Regions from separate parts of the Homo sapiens genome. Here region 2 is linked to region 1. A link means that fine-mapping ties the variant in region 1 to the expression of a gene that starts in the linked region. Tissue or cell type: whole blood. Region 1 holds a variant in brackets; the other region holds the start of a gene. All regions are shown on one strand. Distances are between the middles of the regions.

Region 1 (8,346 bases):
ATCTGAATGCCTAATTCTCTAGCAAGACTAGGGACGGTTTCCCAAATTGTTCCCTTGGATAGGTTTTCCAAGCTTTTTACTTCTTCTTCTTCTTGCTTAAGATTGCCTATAACTCATAGGTTTGGTCACTTTACATAATCCCATATTTCTTGAAGGCTTTGTTTATTTATTTTATTTTATTTTTTAAATTTTTGTCTGCCTAGGTTAAATCAAAGGATTGGTCTTCGAGCTCTAAAAGTCTTTCTTATGCTTGTTCCAGTCTATTGTTAAAGCTTTCAGTTGTATTTTGTAACTCCTTCAATAATTTTTTTTATTTCCAGAAGTTCAGTTTGCTTTTTAATATGTATTTCTTTAGTAATTGTTTATTCATATTCTGAGTTTTTTTCTGATTTCGTGTTGGTTTTCAACTTTATCTTGGACCTCATTGAGCTTCCTTACAATACATATTTTAAATTCTTTATCTGTCATTTTAGAATTTTCATTTTGATTAAGATCCATTGCTAGAGAGCTAGTATGATCCTTTGGGAGTGTTGAAACACTGGTTTTTTATACTGTTGGAATTCTTACGCTGATTCCTTCTCATCTGAGGAAGCTATCATTTTTTATTTTTGAATTTACTTTCTTTTGAATGACACTTTTTTTCCCTCGAGGGTGTGACTGTAGTAATGTATATTGTGTATAATCATTTGGCTTTGATTCTGGGTGCTTTCAGTGAGCCAAGGTTCTGTATGAGTTCCTTAGTTATAGATAGCTTTTGTGTGGTGGCTTTCTTAAATGCTGATTGTAGTAGCAATGTATTGGGTATATAAGCAGGCTCACTACCTTCTGCCGGGCTGAGAGTGCAGAGGCCTCAGGAAGCTTATCTCATTCCCTAGCACTGTGCTCTTCAGTCAGCAGGTTTTATATTTGGTTGGGCACTTCAATTTCCAGTCCAGTAGGTGGTGCTTATGGGTAAAAGCTGGCTACCACAGAGGTTGATGCCTATGTTCTTTTTCTTTGTTCACTGGGAGGGGATTTCTGTTGTCACAGGCAGTTGGCTGGTCTGTGGACTACTCAATGCCCTGAGTTCCTCACTCAGCCCAGAGCAAGGGACAAATTTGGGCAGAGCTGGACTTCCAAACTCGTCTTTGAATACCCCAGTTACTAGTGGAAGCACCCACCCTGATGGGGCAGGGGGGCAGAGAGGGGCTCAGGGTCCTGAGGTCTCCACTATGGGGGGATAAAGGAGGCTGCACTAAACAAGAAGACAGTCTGCTTCCCTATCACACACCTGTCCAGGGGCTTTTGTTATTTGGTTCAAATAGATATTGTCCTTATCCTCAGCCCACAATTCAGCTGAGGTCAAGAAACATTCCCATTCCATGGCTACTCCTGAAATGGCCTTGGGGCAGAACCTCTTCCCTCAAACCTTAACAGACAGCTCTGCAACTCACTTGCACTCTGCCATAGGAATGCGAATGCTCCACATTGGGATGGGCCCCACCCTTTGTGCAAGCTTAGGCCAGTAGGCACACCATCTGTGGGGGTGAATTAACCCTCAATAGCCCTAGAAATGTTCTCCCCAGGTGCTGTTGTGCCAATTCCCAGCAGGGACAGCTGCTACTGTGTCAATTCCCAGCAGGGACATCCACAGCAGTAGATGAGGGGTGGAGGAGACCTTATTTCCACATCCGTTCCAGGCACTGGTACTGCCTGGCTGCTGTGGTGGAACCACCCTCCTCCCCTACAGAGCCCAACACCACACCCATTTCTCCGCTGGGAGGGGCACAATCATCGTCTTCTCACAAGCAGGGAGCTCTCAGGCAGATGAGAGTGCACAGTCTGGTTTCCTTTGTCCCAAAGGGTGCTTTGGCACTCTCTCCCTTTGGTGTGGGTGAGGGTGGGATTTTTGATCTGCAGTTGGCTGTATCCACAGACACAGCACCTGCAGATATGGAGGGCCAACTGTACTGCCTCTATGCTGGAACTTTAGCTGCACCTTCAAAAGACTATCCTAATGGTTTATCGGCCAGCAATTTCTACATAGTGTGATGTATAATACAACCAGTGGGTTCCACAGTCAGGACACCCCTCCTGAAACTCCTTTACTGCAAAGTGATACCTCTGATTGGATGCTTGCTTCTGTGGGATTCTATGCCTGTGAATCAGGAACTCAGTAAATCCCCAAATTGTGGTGTTGGCTAAGACTCTGAGGGCTGGAAAGTCAAATTCATATCCAGAATGGGTGTCAGAACAGGTATCTGTTTCAACGAGAAAGAACTATTGACTTTTCCACGATGGAAGGGGACTAATATAGTCAATTTATTACAAAATGCCAGTTGGTCTTTTCAAATAGTAGCATGGTGGGGACTCATCTACATTGTTGATAGGTCATACATACAGAGGTATTTGGATCAGCCTCAATAAGTGGGAGTTCATACAAACAGACTTATGTGTTGCATTCATGCATTCCATTTGCCTGTAATACTTATTCTGGGTAGAAAAAGGACCAAGGCTGACTAATGTCAACTGGTTGAGTCATTTTGTCTATTGATTATTCAGTGGCTCTGATAGGCATTAATCTATAGAAACTTTTCACACACCATTCCCACTCCCATATCTCCACTCATATGTCATTGGCCCAGACCCTCTTATTTCTGATCTTCCAATTCTTTTATTTCTAAACCCCTGAACTCTGGCCAGGCATTTGCCACAGTTCACACTTATTTTCACCTCAGGCCACTTCTGCTTTCATACAAAGTGAATGGCCAGGTACACCCAAAGTTCCACCTTGAAAATGTTCTCTCACCACTGTCTTTCAAGGCCGCCGCCCCTGAGTATGGCTGTAATGTAGCCATTGTCCATTTTCAGCTTGTACCCACCTGTCAAGCCAACCAACTGATAAACCAAGAATGAACTTTTTTTCATTTCCTTTATCTAGTGGGACAGGAACCCATCTCTCATATGGTGCTAAGTGAGAGCTGAAAGAAGATTACTGGTACAACTGTGGTGGGTGATATGGAGCTCTAGCTTGTCTGCTTACGTAGTTTACTTATGCCCTCTGTTTCTACTTAGATACAATCTTAAATGTACCATTTACATCTTATAGATATGTTGTAACTGGAACTGCCTAACTTTATGATTCAATCTGACAAAACACAAATCATGATGGATGGTTCTGGACACATGGTCACTTGGTATCCTATCAGTTTCTATGCTTCTGTCTTTGTAATAGAGAATACAAATGCAGCAATTTGTGCATCAGCATCTTCCTGACCCCTGAATTTCTAAAGTTCTTATTGAAGTGACAGATTCCTCTGGAGTGCATATGCCTTACCAAGACCTCTAGTATGCTAGTCACTTCTTGCTCATCCTGCCAGATCAGCATGATGCCATTAATATAATAAATCAATTTGAAATTGTACAGGATTCCAGACAGTCCAGATCTCTTCTAAATATTTTCTGTCAGTGGGTAGAACTGTTAACATAGCTCTAGGGCAAAATTTTATTCTTTCCATGTGAGTGCAAACTATTTCTGATTCTCTTGATTGATTAGGATTAAAAAAACACATTTGCCAAACTAATGCTGCATACTATATATCTGAGGCCTTATTAATCTGCTCAAGCAATAATACAACATTCAGCATGGCAGCTATGACTGGTTCTATTACTTGGTTGACCTTGTGGTAGTCCACAGGTTTCCTCCAAGATCCATCTATTTTCAGCAGGGACCAGACTGGTCCATTAAAAATACATAGGATAGGCCAGGTATTGTGGTTCATGCTTATAATCCTAGCACTTTGGGAGGCTGAGGTAAGTGGATTGCCTGAGCACAGGAGTTTGGGACCGACCTGGGCAACATGGTGAGACCCCACCTCTACTAAAAATACAAAAAATTAGCCAGGTGTGGTGGTGCATGCCTGTAATACCAGGTACTCAGGAGACTGAGGTACGAGAATCACTTGAATCTGGGAGGTGGAGGTTGCAGTGAGCTGAGATTGCGCCACTTCACTCCAGCCTGAGCAACAGAGTGAGACTCTGTGATATAGTTTGGCTGTGTCCCCGCCCAAATCTCAATTTGAATTGTATCTCCCAGAATCCCCATGTGTTCTGGGAGGGACCCAGGGGGAGGTAATTGAATAATGGAGGCCAGTCTTTCCCATGCTATTCTTGTGATAGAGAATAAGCCTCACGAGATCTGATGGGTTTTTCAGGAGTTTCTCCTTTTGCTTCTTTTTCATTTTCTCTTGCTACCACCATGTAAGAAGTGCATTTGCCTCTCGCCATGATTCTGAGGCCTCCCCAGCCATGTGGAGGTATAAGTCCAATTAAACCTCTTTTTCTTCCCAGTCTCAGGTGTGTTTTTATCA[G/C]CAGCATGAAAAAGACTAATTCAGTAAATTGGTACCAGTAGAGTGGGGCATTGCTAAAAAGATACCCAAAAATGTGGAAGCTACTTTGGAACTGGGTAACAGGCAGAGGTTGGAACAGTTTGGAGGGCTCAGAAGAAGACAGAAAAATGTGGGAAAGTTAGAGATTTGGTGAATGGCTTTGACCAAAATGCTGATAGCAATATGGACAATAAGGTCCAGGCTGATGTGGTCTCAGATGGAGATGAGGAACTTGTTGGGAACTGGAGTAAAGGTGACTCTTGTTATGTTTTAGCAAAGAGACTGGCGGCATTTTGCCCCTGCTCTAAAGATTTGTGGAAGTTTGAACTTGAGAAATATGATTTAGGGTATTTGGTGGGAGAAATTTCTAAGCAGCAAAGCAAGAGGTGACTTGGGTGCTGTTAAAGGCATTCAGTTTTATAAGGGAGGCAGAGCATAAAAGTTTGGAAAATTTGCAGCCTGACTAATTTCTTCTGGGGAGAAATTGAAGCTGGCTGCAGAAATTTGCATAAGTAGCAAGAATTCTAATGTTAATCTCCAAAACAATGGGGAAAATATCTCCAGGCCATGTCAGAGACCTTTGTGGAAGCCCCTCCCATCACAGGCCAGTAGGAAAAAGTGGTTTTGTGGGCTGGGCCCAGGGTCCCCGTGCTGTGTGCAGTCTAGGAACTTGGTACCCTGTGTCCCAGCTGCTCCAGCCGTGGCTGAAAGGGGCCAAGGTACAGCTGGGGCTGTTGCTTCAGAGGGTAGAAGCCTCAAGCCTTGGCAGCTTCCATGTAGTGTTGAGCCTGTGGGTACACAGAAGTCAAGAATTGAGGTTTGGGAACTTCAGCCTAGATTTCAGAAGATGTATGGAAATAACTGGATGCCCAGGCAAAAGATTGCTGCAAGGGCGGGGCCCTCATTGAGAACCTCTGCTAGGGCAGTGAGGAAGAAAATGTGGCATCAGAGACCCCACACAGAGTCCCTACTGAGGAACCACCTAGTGGAGCTGTGAGAAAAGGACCACTGTCCTCCAGACCCCAGAATGGTAGATCTACCAACAGCTTGCACCATGCACCTGGAAAAGCCACAGATACTTAATGCCAGCCCATGAAAGCAGCTGGGAGAGAGGCTGTACCCCGCAAAGCCACAGGGGCACAGCTGCCCAAGACCATGGGAACCTACCTCTTGCATCAGGGTAACCTGGATGTGAAACATAAAGTCAAAGGAGATCATTTTGGAGCTTTAAAATTTGACTGCCCTGCTGGATTTCAGACTTGCATGGGCCCTGTAACCCCTTTGTTACACCCAATTCCTCCCATTTGGAATGGCTGTATTTACCCAATACCTGTACCCCCATTGTATCTAGGAAGTAACTAGCTTGCTTTTGATTTTACAGGCTCACAGAAGGAAGAGACTTGCCTTGTCTCAGATGAGACTTTGGACTGTGGACTTTTGAGTTAATGCTTAAACGAGTTAAGACTTTGGGGGACTGTTGGGAAGGCATGAATGGTTTTGAAATGCGAGGACATGAGATTTGGAGGGTACATCTTTATCAGCAGTGTGAAAACAGACTAATACACTCTGTCTCCAAAATATATATGATAGGGACTACCATTCCTCCGATTTTAGATCTTTAAAGGGGAACAAATCTCTGTCATATCTTCAGGAAACAATATTGTTTTTTATTTTCTGTCTTTAAGCTTGGTAATGTCAGAGGCTGTGTCTTCCTCCACAGCCAAGGACCCAATGTCGAAGACTATCCAATAGTAAATTGGAGAGCCAGAGAAATGACCATGCAGTAAATCTGCAAACCAAATGGACCCACTGCAAGATAAACTTTAGCTAGTAATATTTTACCTTGCCCCATTCACCTCCATGTAACAGGGCCCATGGTGATACTTTGGCTCTCTGCATATCAATGTCAACCCAGATCCTGTGTCCAATAGTCTCCCAACTGTGTGTATATTCTCCTTTTCAAGTACTTATTCACCACATAAATGTCCATGGATCCCTTTGGGAAAGACTAGACAAATCTTTAGAGTACATACAGAAGGGGGTTACTAAGGAATCTTTAAAGTACGTACCAGTGGCGTTTTTCCAAGGAATTCAGCCACCTCTTTAGTCTGTAGGTTCCAGGTCTGAAAACTGTCTGAAATCCAGTAATTAAGCAAGGGATCATGATTTTTTACGACTTACTTCCTTGAACCACTGCTAAAACCAGCTGTGCTAGTTCAGATTCTCCAATACTAAAAAGAAGGTGTGCTAGTTCAGAAGGCAATGTCAAGATAACGTCAGAAGCGCAAGAGATAGTGGTCCAAGAGACTTACCTCCTTGGACCACTACTAAACTTACTAAGACTTACTTCCTTGGGCCACTAGTTCAGACGCTCCACTACTAAAACCAGCCATGAGAAGTGCAAGAGATTTATTCATTGATGGGTGTAAAAGCTAAGGCATTAACTAGTATGATATGGGAAGGAGAAAGAAAAAGAGTAACTTTACAGGAGAGAAAACTGACAAACACTACCTCAGCCAGGTGATCCAGGTCACCATCAGGTCAACATCAAGTCATGTTAATAGTCACGTTAATAGTATGTATTTTTGATATGACGAGAATAGCACTTTTCCTCCGTGGTCTTCTTCCCAAGAATACATAATCCCAGCCTAACTGTGAGAAAAGCAACAGATGAATCTCAAATGAGGAACATTCTCTAAAATACCTGACAAGTACTCTTTAAAACTGTCAAAGTCATCAAAAACAAAGGAAGTCTGAGAAACCATCACAAACACAAGGAGACTAAGATTAGAAGTATGTCTACTCAATGTAATATGATATCCTGAATGGGATTTTGGAAGGGAAAATAAAAGGGTATTAAGTAAAAACTAAAAAAAAAAAAATAAAGTGTGGACTTTAGGTTAATGATAATGTATCAACATTGGCTCATTAATCATGAAAAATGTTCAATGTAAGATGTTAACAATAGGGGAAAGTTGGTATGAGGTATATGGGAACTCTGTACTATAAAATTTTCTGCAAATCTAAATGTGTCCTAAAATATAGAAGTTTCTTAAGAACATTTTGTAAAAAGTGTATTTTATGGCACATGAAAATTACATAAAATTTAAATTACAGTGGCCATGAAAAAAGTTTTATTATATCACACACACACACACACACACACACACACACACACACACACACAATAAATGGCAGAGGAAACAGGAGTAGACAGAAAATGCTTTATACCACAATGTATATCTGATACTTTTGAAGGGGAGTGGGGCTGGGGGAAGGACAGAGATTCAGGAGGAAGAGGCTCTAATTGCAACTCTGAAAAAATCTGAGCCCACGCAAGGGAAAGTTGTGGCACAAAAATCCTCAGTGGAGATCTTTTGTGTCGGGAGAAGTATGTGTTGGGCAAAAATGTCTTAGTACAGTGTCATGCTTAGTCATTGAGTGGGGCTGGCCAGGAAAAGAGTGGCCTTGGCTGAAATGCTGTGGCAGATTTCAAAGGTGCTGCAGCTGGAGACTGTCAGCTCACTGCACTCCTTTTGACAAGTTCTCTTGAAGGGAAATCTCAGGGATGTGCCTCCATATTGCCACATGGGTAAAGCAGATTCACCTGAGTAACTGAGAGTGACATTTCACATAGATCAAAGCTGTAGGGAAAAGAGAGATCAGACTGTTACTGTGTCTATGTAGAAAAGGAAGACATAAGAAACTCCATTTTAACCTGTTCTCTGAACAATTGCTTTGCCCTGAGATGCTGTTAATCTGTAACTTTGCCACAACCTTGAACTCACAAAAACATGTGTTGTATGGAATCAAGGTTTAAGGGATCTAGGGCTGTACAGGATGTGCCTTGTTAACAAAATGTTTACAGGCAGTATGCTTGGTAAAAGTCATCGCCATTCTCCATTCTCAATAAACCACGGGCACAAACACCGCAGAAAGCCGCAGGGACATCTGCCCTGAAAAGCCGAGTATTGTCCAA
Region 2 (8,346 bases), 50 kb before region 1:
GGATTAATTTTCCAGCATATGAATTTAGGGGGACATATTCAAACAATAGCAAAAATACAATAATTTAAAAGGTATAGTATTGGTGAAAGTAGAAATAAATCCATGGAACAGAATAGAGAGCTGAGAAATAGAACAGCATAAATAAAGTCAACTGATCTTTGACAAAGGAGCAAAGGCAATATAATGGAGAAATGTAGTCTTTTCAACAAATGGTTCTGGAACAACTGAACGTCCATATACAAGAAAAAAAAACCAGTCTAAGCACAAACTTTATACCCTTCACAAAAATTAATCAAAATGGATCACAGACCTAAATGTAAATACAAAAGTATAAACTCCCAGAAGGTTATATAAGAGAAAATCTAGATGATCTTTAATTTGGCAATAACCTTTTAGATACAACACAAAAGGTATGATTTATGAAAGAACAAATCGATAAGCTGGGTGCCATTAAAACTAAAAATTTCTACTCAGCAAAAGACATTCTCAAGAGAATGAAAAAACAAGCCATGGCCTGGGAGAAAAATACTTACAGAAGATATATGCAATAAAAACTATTACGCACAATATGCAAAGACTCTTTAAACTCAACAATCGAAAAACAAACAGTTTAATTTAAAAATGGGTCAAAAACCTTAATGGACACCTCACCAAAGAAGACATACAGTACTCAAATAAGCATATGAAAAGGTGCATCATATGTCACCAGGAAAACGCACATTAAAATACCAATGAAATACCACTACACACCTTTTAGAATGGCCAAAATCCAGAACACTGGCAACACCAAATGCTGACAAGGATGTGGAGGAACATGAGCTCTCATTCACTGCTGGTGGGAATGCAAAATGGCACAGCCACTTTGGAACATAGTTTAGCAGTTTCTTAAAAAACTGAACATTATGCTTACTGCCATAGTCTGTTTAATGTTGCTCATAAGAAAATACCTGAAACTGAGTAAGTTATAAAGAAAAGGAATTGACTTCTTAGAATTATGGAGGCTGAGAATTTCAAAGTCAAGGGGCCATATCTGGTGTGGCCCTTCTTGCTACTGGGGACTCTGCAGAATCCCAAGGCAGCACAGAGTATCACATGGTAAAGGGGCTAAACTAATCCATTAACCCATTAATCTACGAATGGATCAATACATTCATGAGGACAGACCCAATCACTTCTTAAAGGCTCCACCTTTCAATACTGTTACATTGGGGATTAAGTTTCAACATGAATTTTGAAAGGGACAAATATCCAAACAATAGCATTTACTATAACATATAGTTATGATCCAGCAATCATGCTCATGGTATTTATCCAAAGGAGTTGAAAACTTATGTCTACACAGAAACCTGCACAAAGATGTTTATAACAACTGTATTCACATTTGCAAATTGATATGGTTTGGCTCTGTGTCCCCACCCAAATCTTACCCTGAATTGTAATAATCCCCACGTGTCATGGGAGAGACTAGGTGAGAGGTAACTGAATCATGGGGGCAGGTTTTTCCCGTGCTGTTCTCATGGTAATGATTATGTCTCATGAGATCTGATGGTTTTATAAAGAGTAGTTCCCCTGCACATGGTCTCTTGGCTGCCACCATGTAAGATGTCCCTTTGCTCCTCCTTCGTCTTCCACTATGATTGCGAGGGCTCCCAGCCATGTGGAACTGTGAGTTCATCAAACCTCTTTCCTTTATAAATTACCCAGTCTTGGGTCTGTCTTTATTAGTGGCATGAGAATAGAATAATACACCAATACCTAGAATCAGCCAACATGTCCTTCAGTAGCTACTGGAATAAAGAAATGTTGGTACATCCAGAAAATGAAAAATTATTCAGTGCTAAAAAGAAATTAGGTATCAAGCCACGAAAAGACATGGAAGAAATTTACACACATATTACTAAGTGAAAGAAGCCAATCTGAAAAGACTACATACTGTATGACTCCAACTATATGACATTCTGGAAAAAGCAAAACTATGAAGACAGTAAAAAAAAATTAGTAGTTGCCGGGGTTAGGAGGCAGGGAGAGATGAATAGTCTGAGCACCAGGGATTTTTAGGCAGCAAAACGACTCTATATGGTACTAAATGCTGGAAACATGTCATTATACATTTATACCAACCCATGAAATGTGCAACACCAAGAATGAGCCCTAATATACACTATGAACTCTGGGTGGGAATAATGGATAAATGTAGGTTCATCAGTTGTAAATGTACTACTCTGTTGTGGGATGTTGATAATGAGGGAGTTTATGTATGTGTGGGGACAGGAGTTACATGAGAAATCTCTGTACCTTCCTCTCAGTTTTGTTGTGAACCTAAAACTGCTATTAAAAAAGAGTCTATTTTTAGAAAAGGAATTGGTAAAAAAAACAAAACAAAACAAAAAAAACACAGAAGTAGCTCTACCACTCCCTGGCTGGGTGGCCTCAGGCAATTTGATTTCTCTTTTTCTCAGTTGTTTTTCCATCTGTTAAAGGGATAATAACTATTTCTTAAGATTTGTGTGACTTGAGTGAGTTGATATTGTCCAAGCATTTTAAATAGTGCCTGACACATTAAATATTTGTGAAATAGATTAAAAATAGTATTCACCACTCTGTATTGTAACTGTTTGATGATTCATCTGTGTCACCTTTAATTAAAAGCTCCCTGTGGATAGACTCCATGTCTAGCTTGTTCAGCATTTGAGCCTTTAGCTGGGCTGTGACACACAGGAAGTACCAAGGAAATATTTATTGAATGAGATGTCTAGCAGTGGAATGGGCTTCCCTGTTGGTCTAATTATTTAAGAAAAGGATGTGATGATCACCTGTCAGTGATGTTCCGGAGAGTATACCTAACACAGGAGGCTAGCAATAGTGGCTAAAATTTCTTCCAAATCTAAGATTGCATTATTCTATTTATACTTTTTCTTTAGCATTTTTTGCAGTCTAACAACAGTACCACCATAATAAAAGAATTGCATCTTTCAGCACTTGCCACCTTCACCCTTAAATAGGTTCTAGCCATACTAAAATACTTCTAGCGTTTAGGATCTTCCTCTCCTTAGGCACATTACATGCTTTTCCCTTTGTTTAGAATGCTATCTTAGACTTGTCTGTTTCACTTTCTGTATACAATTTCCAGAAAGGCTTCCCTGCTCCTCCACAAGAGTACCAAGCAATAGAATTTTGGCTTTGTATTTATCACGTTTTAAATACTGCCTGATTGCTAATTCACTAAATTGTAAGCTGCTTGAAAGCTGGATCTGTGTCTTGTCTACTGATCTTTCTCAATCACTTAAAACTTACTACTATGCAGTCATAGTAGTAAGTATTCAAGGGCATAAATGAAACCATCTTACATAGGTCTATTGTTTTTCAATTGTGTGCATCACAGACAATTTTTAAAAGCACTTTTCTTTTTATAAATGTTTGGCTAACCTGTTACAATGTTTTGTAGTAAAATTCTCTCCCAATGTCAATTTTCCATATCTGCTTAATGCTATTAAGCACAATATGTAATATGCAAACGTGTATTCCAAAACTAATACTTGCTTTTTTTCCATGCTTAGAATTTAAAGTCTTCAAAGCAAGTTGGTTTTGTTTTGTTTTGTTTTTGAGGAAAATGTTTGGAGGTAAACAGATCAGACCAAAATCAGCTAGATATTAGCCAATTTTGTCTGGAACAAAAAAAGAAAACAAAAGAGTTCGTTCTTACTGTGAATGCCACAATTAGTGAAAAAGATGAATCTTGATATTCCGGGCTGTCTGAATTGTGCTGATGAGAGAAGAAGTAGAAATGTTTTAACCTTTGAAGAGTTTGGTGATCCCTACTCTCCCTTCACTCCCATTTATTTTGTGGTTTCCCACAAAGGTTCATTTAAAAACTGAAAAAAATCTCATCAATTAAGTTGGCCTTAAGAACTTCTTTGGCCTTAAGAACTAGCAATATTTCTGTATTCCATTCTGTCCCTGAGGAAAATAAAAGGCAGGCCCTGCACCAAATTTCCAACTCAACAGGTAATGGGGAAAAAAAATTTAATTGAATTTGTATCTGTATCGCAGAAAAATCATTTCACCTGGCACAATTAGAAGGTTCCTCAGACCTGTTACTCAGCAATTGGCATTTACCATACAAACTGATGACTCATTAATAACGACATATCATTCAGTGTCAGAAATCAATTCGGGATAACATTTCACTACATTAGTTTAGTGAAAAGGGCTTACTCACGTAACACAAGTCTTTCTTTAGTTTGTCAGACATCTATTACCAGCTTTCTTCACTCTGCAGGTCTAGCTTTCCCCTCCTCTCCCCCTCCCCTACCCACTCTCCCCTCCCTCTTCTCTCCTCCCTCCTCCTTACCCCCTCCTCCCTCCTTTGTTTTTCCCTCCTCCCTCCTCCCTTTCTCCTTCCGGGAGGCGGGACAAGGCTTGCTTGCGTCCTCCGTAGATTGGCAGGTCACTGGGACGGCCAGCGCGTGCGCACTGGCCTGTCAGCGGCCGGTGGACCATGGAGGCCGCAAGGCCCTTCGCCCGGGAGTGGAGGGCCCAGTCCCTACCCCTGGCAGTAGGGGGCGTTTTGAAGCTGCGGCTCTGTGAGCTGTGGCTACTGCTACTGGGTTCTAGTTTGAACGCCAGATTTTTGCCAGACGAGGAGGACGTAGACTTTATCAACGAGTACGTGAACCTCCACAATGAGCTGCGGGGCGACGTCATTCCCCGAGGGTCTAACTTGCGCTTCATGGTGAGGCCGGAAGGCGGTTTGCCGACCCTTCCACTACCGTTGCCACAACGCCTCCCTGGATCTCGGGTAGTTGGGGCCACTGCTCTGAGGCTGAAGGATCGCGGAGAACCGCACTTTTAGCTTGGTTTTTAAAGTACACGTGAAGTTTACACAGAGAAAAACTGCGGACACTCTAACACATGCTTATTACCATGATATTACACAGGGCCAGGACTAAGGTGATGGAGGCACTGGCCTGAAGTGCAGATTTTAAGGGGGCGCCAATTCAAGAAAATGATATTTTAATGCAACGGGTTTTTAAAAATTAAAAATCAGTGCAAAAATATCAATATCAAGGGTAAAGAAAATGTTAAAAAATTTAACAAAGACAGGTTCCTTGGGTCTGGATTAGGGAAAAACAAGTGCGACACTCTCAGGGTGGTGCAAATCAAGATGAGATTCTGTTTGTATTTGAAATTTTTATTTTTAGCTTTTTCCATCATCGATGTCACATTAGCTTTGCCTTTTAAAAATGTTTGTTATCTTGATTTTTTTTTTTTGTGCCCATTCCAAATTTGGCTCCTAAGGAAGTGTCTCAGTTTCCTCACCCTAGTCTTGACCCTGATTTTGCCTTACCTTACAATGCGGTTCTTGCTTTCCCCCTCTTTTACACCCTATAGTCATTTAACAACTCAACTATTCCCTGGTTGCTATTGAGTTTTCCTGACTGTCATTAAAATGACTGAAAATCCGGCAAATAAATAACTGTCCTCTTAGGGAATTAGAAGCTTCAAACTTATAAATTATATTGCAAGGACTACTTTCCTAGACATGTCTTTTCTTCCTTCAGCATTAGTTCTTAGCACAAATTTCAGAAATGGGATAAATAAATTAAGGGTATGATATTTTTTATTAATTTAACACATAGCAATTGCTATGCTAAAGGGTAGTGCCAAATTTAGCAAATACCAGCTGTTCTGTTTTCACCACATCCTCACTGATTTGGACATGTTCAATTACTTGCTAAATGAATAAATTACAAAAATGGTCATTTGTTTTAATGTTGATTTTAAAATACTATTTTGATAGGACATACTTGAGTTCTTTCTTCGTCATTTCCTTTACCTTTTATATTGTCAGCATTTCCATGTCAGATTATATGCTGTCTTATAGAACTATGCTAGCATTTGGTTCTATCTGCTGAAGATACTTTTTTCTAAGCCAATTCTTTTTCTTTTGAATTCAATTATAGAGTTTGGGGATATTTGGGAGTTTCAACTAATTTCCCATTTTTTGTGACTAATTCTGTTTCTTCCCAATTTGAAGATTATCCTTACTCCTGAAAATTAATAAACACATAATACTTTCTAATACAACTTTTCATAGGTTTTCTATCTCATCTCTAAAAATTATATAGTATTTCAAACATAAGGTATATAAAATAATATACCTGTATACCCACAATCGATATTTTTAAATATAGACATTTTTAAAGGAATAGTATTTGATATATAGGTTAAAGTCCCACCCTAAATTTTTACCTTTTTCTTCTTTCTTGAAGTTAATGTATATTTTTCCCATGTATTTTATTAGGACATAAATATTAACTGTAAATAGTATAGTCTATCATAATAGTATGGCCTATTTAAAATGTTTCTTTAGCAGATTTGGACATCACTCAGCTTATTTAAACTCTTTTATTGGTTATTTTTAGTATTTTAATGTATGTACTTTTTATAAATTCCAAAAGTTAATACCTGTAAACTCCACCCAAATATTAATAAGATCTTAGAACACAAATTCTGAATACTTTCCATCCTTATTCATGCTATTGCCGTGTAGTACTTTTGTTCTACCTTGCTTTTAAATACCAAAAAAATTGTTGTTTTTAAAAAATTGTATTACAATATACAGGACATAACATTTACCATTTTAACCATTTTTAAGTGTATAGTTCAGTGGCATTAAGTACATTTGCATTGTTGTGCACCCATTACCACCACCTATCTCCAAAATTTTTTCGTCTTCCTGAACTGAGACTCCATACCCATCAAATAATTACTTTACTCTCCATCTCCCCTCCTCCCAGGCCTCTATCACCATTCTACTTTCTATTCCTATTAATTTGACTTCTTAAGGTACCAAATATAAGTGGAATCATATAATATTTGTCTTTGTTACTAGCTTATTTCATTTGGTATAATGTCTATAAAGTTCACCCATGTTGTAGCATGTGTCAGAATTACCTGTCTTTTTACAGCTGAATAATATTCTACTGTATGCATATACCACATTTTGTTTATCCATTCATTGGTCAGTGGATATTTAGATTGCTTCCATTATTTGGCTGTTGTGAATAATACTGCTATAGACATGGGTGTACATTTATCTGCTCCAGTTCCTGATTTTGCTGTTTTTGGGTATATACCCAGAACTGGAATTGCTGTATCATATGATAATTCTGTTTAATTTTTCAAAGAACCCCCATTCTGTTTTCCATAGTGGCTGCACCATTTTACATTCCCACCAAGAATGTTCAAGGGTTCAATTTCTCCACATCCTTGATAACACTTGTTATTTTCTGTTTTATTTTCCTTATTCCTCTTTTTTTCTTAATGATAACCATCTAGCAGTTATGAAGTGATACCTCACTGTATTTTTTATCTGCATTTCCCTAATGATTACTGATATTGAGCATCTTTTTATTTGCTTCTTGACCAAGATTTTCTCTTCTTTGAAGAACTATCTATTCAAGTCGTTTGCACATTTTTTGGCCAACTTGTTAGATTTTTTGTTGTTGAATTATAGGAATTTTTATAGATTCTGGATATTAATCTTTTTCAGATATATGATTTGAAAGTATTTTCTCCCGTTTTGTAAGTTGCCTTTGCACTCTATTGATAATATCCTTTGATAAACAAAAGTTTTTAACGTCAATGAAGTATAATTTATCATTTTTTGTTGTTATTGTATGTATTTTTTGTCGTATCCAAGAAGTCATTGCCAAATTCAATATCATGAAGCTTTTCCCCTGTGCTTTTTAAAGGTTTTATAGTTTTAGGTCTTTGAGTTAAGTTTTGTATATTGTGTAAGGTAAGGGTCCAGCTTATTCTTTTGCATGTGGATATCCAGTTTTCCTAACTTCATTTGCTGGAAAGATTGTTATTTTCCCCATAAAATGGTCTTTCCACCCTTGTTAAAAATCGTTTGACCATATATGCTGGCATTTATTTTGGGGCCCTCTATTCCATTCTGTTAGTCTAATATGTCTGTATGCTATTAATAGTTCCACAATGATTACTGTAGAATACTGGTAAGTAGAAATTAGGAAGTGTGCATTCTTCAACTTTTTTCATCTTCTTCAAGATTATTTTGGCCATACAGGGTCCTTTCAGATTTTTTACGAATTTTGAGATGTATTTTTGTATTTCTGCAAAAAAAAAAAAAAAAAAAAACATTATTGGGATTTTGATATGGGTTTCCTTGATTTGTAACATTTTGGGTAGAACAGGCATCTTAACAATATAAAGTATTCCAATACTTTAACACAGTATGTCTTTTCACTTTCTAATATCCACCTTAATTTCTTTCAGTAATATTTTATTTTCAGTATATATGTTTTTCCCTCTTTGGCT

What was found.
Region 2: it holds the start of GLIPR1L2, and the variant in region 1 is fine-mapped to the expression of GLIPR1L2 in whole blood (INTERVAL, PIP above 0.99).

The regions. Positions count from the first base shown.
Region 1 is chr12:75,436,820-75,445,165 of GRCh38, forward strand. No RefSeq gene overlaps it. Among named protein-coding and RNA genes, the nearest start is that of GLIPR1, 40 kb to the right of the region's middle. The variant G/C (reference allele first, on the strand shown) is at 4,350.
Region 2 is chr12:75,386,619-75,394,964 of GRCh38, forward strand. It overlaps GLIPR1L2 (GLIPR1 like 2), which reads left to right and starts at 4,471. Exons shown (of 6, transcript NM_001270396.2): 1 at 4,471-4,732. The coding sequence starts at 4,499. It also overlaps a transcript of CAPS2 not described here. RefSeq lists a silencer at 4,273-4,445 and an enhancer at 4,403-4,532.